2 separate regions of the Homo sapiens genome follow, and region 1 is reported to be linked to region 2. Evidence: microRNA targets listed by miRTarBase, many of them from high-throughput screens and not tested one by one. Region 2 holds a microRNA gene; the other region holds the end of a gene's coding sequence.
The links. Region 2 holds the annotated microRNA hsa-miR-30c-2-3p (CUGGGAGAAGGCUGUUUACUCU, at 2,443-2,464, shown strand). A microRNA usually pairs through its seed, bases 2 to 8, with sites in the 3' UTR of a target mRNA and lowers its output. Matches are read on the target gene's strand: a 7mer-m8 pairs with bases 2 to 8, a 7mer-A1 pairs with bases 2 to 7 and ends in A, and an 8mer does both.

Region 1 (4,047 bases), not on the chromosome of region 2:
TTCGAGACCAGCCTGCCCAATATGGGGAAACCCTGGTCTCTACTAAAAATACAAAAATTAGCTGGGTGTGGTGGCGCATGCCTGTAATCCTAGCTACCTGGAAGGCTGAGGCAGGAGAATCACTTGAACCTGGGAGGCGGAGGTTGCAGTGAGCCGAGGTTGGGCCACTGCACTCCAGCCTGGGCAACAGAGCAAAACTCTTTCTCAAAAACAAAAAAAAACTGTAGACTGAACTTCACCCACTGAAAAAAAGTTATATGAACTGGAAATTTCTTCAAATTGTAATATCAGTATGGAAAAGAAATATTATCTCAAATTTCAAATTCACAGAGGTCACTTTATTATTTTGCCATGTTTAACATTCACTCTTAAAGTAGAAGATTCTGCATAGAAATTAAGTTACACTACATTACAGAAAAGTAAATTTAAAATTCTTTACTTACCATTAGAACTCCTAAAATTTTGATTTCTAAAATATATTCTCTAGCAAATTTTGTATTTGCTACACGTTGTATAAAAATCTAGGCCAGGCGCAGTGGCTCACGCCTGTAATCCCAGCACTTTGGAAGGCCGAGATGGGCGGATCATGAGGTCAGGAGATCGAGCCCCTCCTGGCTAACACGGTGAAACCCCGTCTCTACTAAAAATACAAAAAATTAGCTGGGCGTGTTGGCGGGCGCCTGTAGTCCCAGCTACTCAGGACACTGAGGAAGGAGAATGGCGTGAATGTGGGAGGCGGAGCTTGCAGTGAGCCGAGATCGTGCCACTGCACTCCAGCCTGGGGGACACAGCGAGACACTGTCTCAAAAAAAAAAAAAAAAATTAAACAGATTTCAACAAGAAAAAATAATAAAAATTTAACCTACGGAAACAGTATTTTTTAAACTTATTTGCAGTTGAAAGCCACTGGCAAAGGAGATTACCAGAGATGTTAGTTGATTACATTACCAAATAGTATATTCTTACTATCATTTACCTACACCTTTGAGTAAATGGGATAGGTTTCAGTTAGTGGCATAATAATGCTTCATTGAATGCACAATAGTATTAACATGTTAAAAATGTATAATGAAACAAGTTCACACATCATCTGAAAATTTAAAAATGTACTGCATTTTATTACATAAAAGTACAAATAGTAAAATAACGTACTAATTTTTTAATTTTAACAAAACTTAAATGTTCTTACTATAATGCAAAAGAATATTACTCTAAACACCTACCTCATGCACCACTCAATATCATAATTAACCACAAATACCATCTCCACTTAGATTTTCATCATGCATGTTACATTTTAATGTCCTTACTCTTCCAAAGAAAAGGTCATAAATAATGCCCACCTAAAAAAAAAGAAACTCTCCTATCTTTGATGCCGTGACAACTGATCACATGCTTTCACATGTGAATACAATAGAAATGAAGAAATAGCATCAAGTAACTAGAGAGTTGAATCACAGCAATATTAGCTTTTTAAAAAATCTGTACTTCTTTTCAAGGAAAAAAGAACACTTTGGGCCGGGCGCTGTGGCTTAAGCCTGTAATCACAGCACTTTGGGAAGCCAAGCTGGGCAGAGCATGAGGTCAGGAGTTCAAGACTACCCTGACCAATATGGTGAAACCCCGTCCCTACTAAAAATACAAAAGTCAGCCGGACGTGGTGGTGTGCACCTGTAATCTCAGCTACTCAGTAGGCTGAGGCAGGAGAATTGCTTGAACCCAGGAGGCAGAGGTTGCAGCGAGCTGAGATTGTGCCACTGCACTCCAGCCTGGACGACAGAGAGAGACTCTGTCTCAAGGAAAACAAACAAACAAAAAAAGTATACTTTGAATGTAATTACAAACTTCCAAAAAATCTTCTACTCCTTTTAAAGTTATGTACAAATAAATTTATCTACCGTTAGTTTGGGATCATTTTTAACAGTCAGCACTTTGATATAGTGTAATGTCTGAAGCATCCATACCTTAGTTTGTTTGTTTTTGAGATGGAGTCTCACTCTGTCACCCGGCTGGAGTGCAGTGGTGCAATCTCGGCTCACTACAACCTCTGCCTCCTGGGTTCAACGGATTTTCCTGCCTCAGCGTCCCAAGTAGCTGAGACTACAGGCACGTGCCGCCACGCCCAGCTAATTTTTGTATTTTTAGTAGAGACAGGGTTTTACCATGTTGACCAGGATGGTCTCAATCTGTTGACCTCATGATCTGCCCACCTCAGCCTCCCAAAGTGCTGGCATTACAGGCGTGAGCCACCATGCCCGGCCCTACCTTAGATATTTCCACTGTGAATTCTCTGATATTTACATAGACTTATTTTGGATTAAATGTTTTAAATATATACTGCATCTGCAAAAATATATCTCAGTATGAACCCTCTGGTGTTGTCTAAGTTGTAGTTTTGGAAAACTTTTTTTTCAAATTTATTACATTTGCAGGGTTTTTCTCCAATCTGAATTCCCTGATGTTGAACAAAGTTTAAGTAACTGCTTCAGGGTTTTCTCTAGTACAAAATGTGTACAATAAGATCTGTGATACAAATAAAGGTATTACAATCCTCTTTTATTTGTAATGTTTGTCTTCAAAATAAATACTTTAAAAGCTTATATTTTCTGAAATACTTTTTGACAGTAATTAAATTTATAATACTTTTTTTAAGTACTCTCTGATGTTGAGTAAGATGTGAGCAGACATTAATGGCTTTTTCACAGTCTTTATATTGGTACAATTTTTCTCAAGTATAAATGCTTTCCTGGCAATAAGGTGTGAGTATTCATTAAAAATTTTGCCACATTCTTCACACTTGTAAGAGTTTTTCTAGTAAGAATTATCTTACCTACAATCAAGTGTGACAATCATTTAAAGATTTTGTCACATTTTTCGCATTTTTAAAGTTCCTCACCAGTATGATTTATTTTATGTTTAGAAAAGTTTGAGGTGTTGTCAGAATTACTGTGATGTCTTCCAGCTTTGTAGTTTCTCTCCAGTTTAAGTTTTTTTATGTTTAGTAAGATTTAGGGACCAGTTAAATGCTTTGCCACATTCTTTACATTTGTAGGGTTTCTCTCTAGTATGAATTATCTTTTGTTTCATAAGGATTAAGAGCCAGTTAAAGGCTTTGCCACATTTATCACATTTGTAGGATTTCTCTCCAGTATGAATTATCTTGTGTTTTAATAAAAGTTGAAAATACACTAAAGGATTTGACACATTATTTACATTTGTAGGGTTTCTCTTTGGTATGAATTCTCTTATGTTTAGTAAGGTTTGGGGACTGGTTAAAGGCTTTGCCACATTCTTCACATTTGTAGGGTTTCTCTCCAGTATGAATTATCTTATGTTTCATAAGGGTTGAGGACTGGTTAAAAGCTTTGCCACATTCTTTACATTTGTAGGGTTTCTCTCCAGTATGAATTATCTTATGTGTAGTAAGATGAGAGGACAGAATAAAGCTTTTGCCACATTCTTCACACTTATAGGGTTTCTCTCCAGTATGAATTTTTTTATGATTAGTAAAATTTGAGGAGTAGTTAAAAGTTTTGCCACATTCTTCACATTTGTAGGGTTTGTCTTCAGTATGAATTACTTTATGTTTAGTAAGGATTGAGAATATACTAAAGGCTTTACCACATTCTTCACATTTGTAGGGTTTCTTTCCAGTATGAATTACCTTATGATAAGTAAGAGTTGAGGACTTGGTAAAGGCTTTACCACATTCTTCACATTTGTAGGGTTTCTCTCCAGTATGAATTACCTTATGATTAGTAAGGTGTGAGGACCGGTTAAAAGCTTTGCCACATTCTTCACATTTGTAGGGTTTCTCTTCAGTATGAATTATCTTATGTTTAGTAAGGGTTGAAAATACACTAAAAGCTTTGCCACATTCTTCACATTTGTAGGGTTTCTCACCAGTATGAATCCTCTTATGTGTAGTAAGGTGTGAAGATAGGGTAAAGGCTTTGCCACATTCTCCACATTTGTAGGGTTTCTCTCCAGTATGAATTTTCTTGTGATTAGTAAGGTTTGAGGACTGTTTAAAAGCTTTGCCACATT
Region 2 (4,540 bases):
GCCTAACCTTGAATTTTGGGGGAATAAAAACAAAGTTTTAGAAACTGGTAAATATTTTTTATTTAGAGATTTTTAAAACCTGAATAATCATCTTAACATTGTTAACCCATTGTCAGGTGGTAGATGGCATCATTCATTCATTCATTCATTCATTCATCAAACCTTCACTGAGAACCTCCTTTAGTACCAGACAAACCCTGGATACATGTTGTGAATTTCTTCTGATGAAATGAAGTTAAGTTAAACGAAACATGGTGTTTCTTCCCTAGTAGAGAGATGGATAGGTAAACAAATAATTGTAATAAAGTATCAGTTCTGTGATCTAGGCATATGCAATTATGTGACCTAGGCACAGTATAATGGTGGTAAAAGGAAAAATGAACAATTCCTCCTCAGGTTGGGGGAGGGGTGTGGGTGTTAGGGATGACGCTGACCAGAGAGGATTCACAAGAGAGAATACTTGATTTGGGATTTGAAGACTGTATGGGCACTTGCCAGGTAGAAGAGTAAGCAGAAGTGCAGAAACAGAATAAAGAACAGGTTTGTGTGATTTAGTTCTTCAAGTGTTTTCACCCTTTCAGTTGTGACAGAATTCAGTATTCAATGAGCATGGGGTCATAACTTTGCAGCCCAGCCCATTCAAGTTATCATTCTTAGGGCTCTTTCCTTCTCCACTTCTCTTCCTATTCTTTCCCTCCTGCATGAAAGGCCTTATGAAGCCCAAGCCAGGCTTGTGAATTACCCATGACTTCTCCATCTCCACAGTGCCTCTCCCCTCAGCTACTCACTCACTGAATTCTGCTGTTCTTCTTGTCTTTATAATTTCTCATATTCATTTTCTCTGTGTTCTTACTGCCTCTTCCCTAATTAAGGCTCCCATGCTCTCCCTTACACTACTGCAGTGATTCTTTTCCTGTTTTCCTTACCTGCCACCTTAAAGCTAGAGTAAATTCTCTAAAGTACTGACATGGTCATCCCACTTGCCTGCTTACTATCTTTCACTCGTACCCATCGTTTGGAGATAATGCCCAAACCCTTTAACCTGGCACATAAGGACTCCCATCTTTCCCTTGTGTCTCTCCCCTTACCCTTCACCCACATGCATCTTTGACTCCACCTCTGCTGAATTCTTAAAGGCCTCAGCATACATTACCTTTGTCTTTCTTTCTCTATTGGATGACTGTTCTTTCTGGTACACTTTAAGCTACACTATCTTCTTCACTGCCCACCCCTTCCAAATTCCCATTAGCACCATCTTCACCTAGCTAATTTTATTCAGGCTTCAAGACTCAGCCTGGCTATTAGCCAACTCAGAAGTGTCTTTTGACCCATCATAACACTTATAGTAATGGTGTATGTGTCTGTCTTGCAAATTAAGCTGTGTCCTTCTCGAAGGTAGGGATGATACCCTTCATTTCTCATCACCTAGAATTTAAAACATTGCTGATATATGGCAGGCAGTCACAATTGTTTGTTGAATGAATGAATGAATGAATGAAATGAGTAAGATCCTGTAACAGTTTGGAATTATATGCCACCTGGGTTTACAGTGTAGTCTCTTATCAGGTAGGTTTGTTCTGAGATGTATAGTAATGATGACTTTCTTCTTCGCCCAAGTATTTTGTGTACCTTAGACCAGTTTAGCAAATGAAGTCCAAGAACTATTTGAATAAGTCATTCTTAGAAAATAACTTTAGGAAGCAACTGACTCCATTCATGTGTATGCCTCTAATTGTAGGTTCACTTCTGTCCGAATATGAATTTTTAAAATAATTTTAGCATTATATTAGCAATTTGCAATATACCATTTTTATGCATGTAAAGTTGTATTCTAACATATTTACTTTTTGCTCATTTGATTAAATTTATTACTGTGTATCCCATCATTAAGGTAACTAATTTTCAGTAATTAAACTGTTGGTCTTCTGTTTAGCCATTATTCTCAGTTCTGTGCAGGAGTGAGCTGAAACAAAGTTGTATAGCCCAGAGAGTGAGAAGCTGCATTTCATGTCTCCCAACAGTCAGAAAGGGATTATGTACTGTTTAAGGAAGGAGTTTGGCGAATATTTTGAAACCCTTTTGGGAAAGCATAGAATATTGAAAATCCAAAATTAACCAAATCCGTGAGTGTGCAAGCTCAAAGCTAGAGACCTTAGGAATATCTTAGGATGTGCAAAACAGGAAGAAAACAAGAACTGAGCAGGCAGCACTAAGTAAGTGTCATATAGCCTCCCCACCCACCCTTCCAACCCTACTCCTAAAAGAGCCATAATTTAGTCCCAAGTATACTTTTCTGATCTTTTCCTGTGACATATTATGGTATCTTCAAATGGTACTGGGTTTCCTGAGGCTTGTGCTGCTGACTGCCAACCCCATCCTAGAGAGCACTGAGCGACAGATACTGTAAACATCCTACACTCTCAGCTGTGGAAAGTAAGAAAGCTGGGAGAAGGCTGTTTACTCTTTCTGCCTTGGAAGTCAACTAAAGAGAAATGGATTTTGAATATTTCTATGTCTTAGAATTGATCCTATCCCGTGTTTGTTTCTGAGGTCAACTGTAAAAGGAAAAAAGGTGAATTGACTAAGTCATCCAAAGAAATGTAAGATAATCTATAATATCAGTTATATTTGAACTGTTTCACTTAGTTTAAAAAGAAAAAAAAGATTACCAAATACCCAAGTGACAAAAGTTCTGGTTAACTTGTATGAGGCTACATTTTGTGGGTTGCTGCAGTCTGATCTGTAAAAGCAACACATTACCTATACGTTAAGCTAAACATTTCTCCTTTAACCTGAGAGCATTCCACACTGAAGTCTGCTTTTCTTGAAGCAAAAATTCTAGTGTCCTTGGACTTGCTATTTTATCAGGGATCAAAGGCACCTTGGAGCCCCATGCTTTAGGAATTGTAATGGCAAACAATAAGGTCTGCTCTTTAAAGCTAGAATATAGTTACACATTTCAGGAAAAAATAGAATTGTTGTTGGAGGACGGGAGAGGAAGGAAAATGTAGAGGTAAGGGATGGGATGCAAGAAGTTAATTTTAAGAAAAATCTACAGAACGAACTCATAAGTTCAGCCTTAACCAGAAAAACTCTTTCATGTAAATCGTTTAAATCAAAGGTCTATTAAACATCTAATCTAGAATGTAACTTACCTGAAATTTGAGTCCATTGCTGATTTATTTAAAATTATTATGAAATAAGCCTTCTTGTTAAAGAGAATATTTAAATAAGGCATATTTTTATATAACAAGCCCTTAAGAAGTTAAATAATTAACTTAATGCTTCTATTAAAAATTAAACAAATCTGAACAAAATTACTCTAGTCTTGGCATATCAGCATATATCAGTCATTTAAACTAAAAGACACTCTACTACTTTAGAAGTATTAGAGGAGCTTTTAATTTTACCTCCGCACTGACTGTAGAGCCTAATACAATAGGAGTAATTGTTTCATATGAGTTTATAGAAAAAAAGTTTAAATACAATGACTTTAGCATGTGATTTCAGGGAAGTATTTGAACAGGCTGGCCTTGAAGCAGTGGTAGACACTGTTGAAGTGCCAGCTTGATTGAGTCATTTACCTTTTTAGGTTTGCCTACAGGCTTAAGAAAACCCTCTTTGAAACAATGCTCTACAGTCTTCTCAAAGAAATAATTGTTATAGATGTTTGAAATTTTGCTTTCTGCTAGGAGAGGCAGATAATATGGGTAAGGGGAAAAGCAACTCTAAGCAGCAGAGAATGATGCATATGCTTTGCCATAGCATTTTATTATTCTGCCTAAATTAAAAGGGGGGACATTCAAATATTCCAGATCTAAATTTATGGTTAACTTTTAGTCATGAATGTAGGTGTTTCAAAGCTTATTGAAATACATGCTGAAATTCATTCATCATTCAAGAATTATTTATTGAGCATCTACTATGTGAACTTCTAGGCACAGGGGATATAGCAGAGAACAGAAACAAAGTCCTTTTTCTCATGGAACTTACAAGAAAATATATAATGTGTCAAAATATAAACATCTTGTGTATCTATGTAAAATATCTAATTTTATTCAATCTTTTTATTGCCTTGTCCTCCAAAACCAAGTGTATTTAAATATTCCAGAATATTTCTTTCATTGACTATGGAAAACTTTGATATAAAGCTATATAATTTTGGTTTTTGTTTAGTATTATTCTTCTAGATATGTTCTAGTTGTTAACTAGCCTGTTTTGTGACATGAGTAAGTAGGATTATTAAGCATGCTTGAGAAGTTATATATATATATTTATATATTTATATATTTATATATATTTATATATATTTATATATATATTTATATATATTTTTATATATATTTATATATATTTATATATATATTTATATATATTTATATATATTTATATATATATTTATATATATTTACATATATTTATATATTTACATATATTTATATATATTTATATATATTTATATATGTTTATATATATTTATATATGTATTTATATATATAAATATATATATGAGGGGGCTTCAAAATATTCATGGAAACAT

Region 1: miRTarBase lists ZNF708 as a target of hsa-miR-30c-2-3p. The part of its 3' UTR that is shown has no 7-base or 8-base seed match.

What each region holds. Positions count from the first base shown.
Region 1 is chr19:21,290,069-21,294,115 of GRCh38, forward strand. It overlaps ZNF708 (zinc finger protein 708), which reads right to left. Exons shown (of 4, transcript NM_021269.3): 4 at 1,092-4,047. The coding sequence ends at 3,206. It also overlaps the pseudogene COX16P1. Among named protein-coding and RNA genes, the nearest start is that of ZNF708, 37 kb to the right of the region's middle.
Region 2 is chr6:71,374,888-71,379,427 of GRCh38, reverse strand. MIR30C2 (microRNA 30c-2) reads left to right here and starts at 2,397; the gene lies at 2,397-2,468.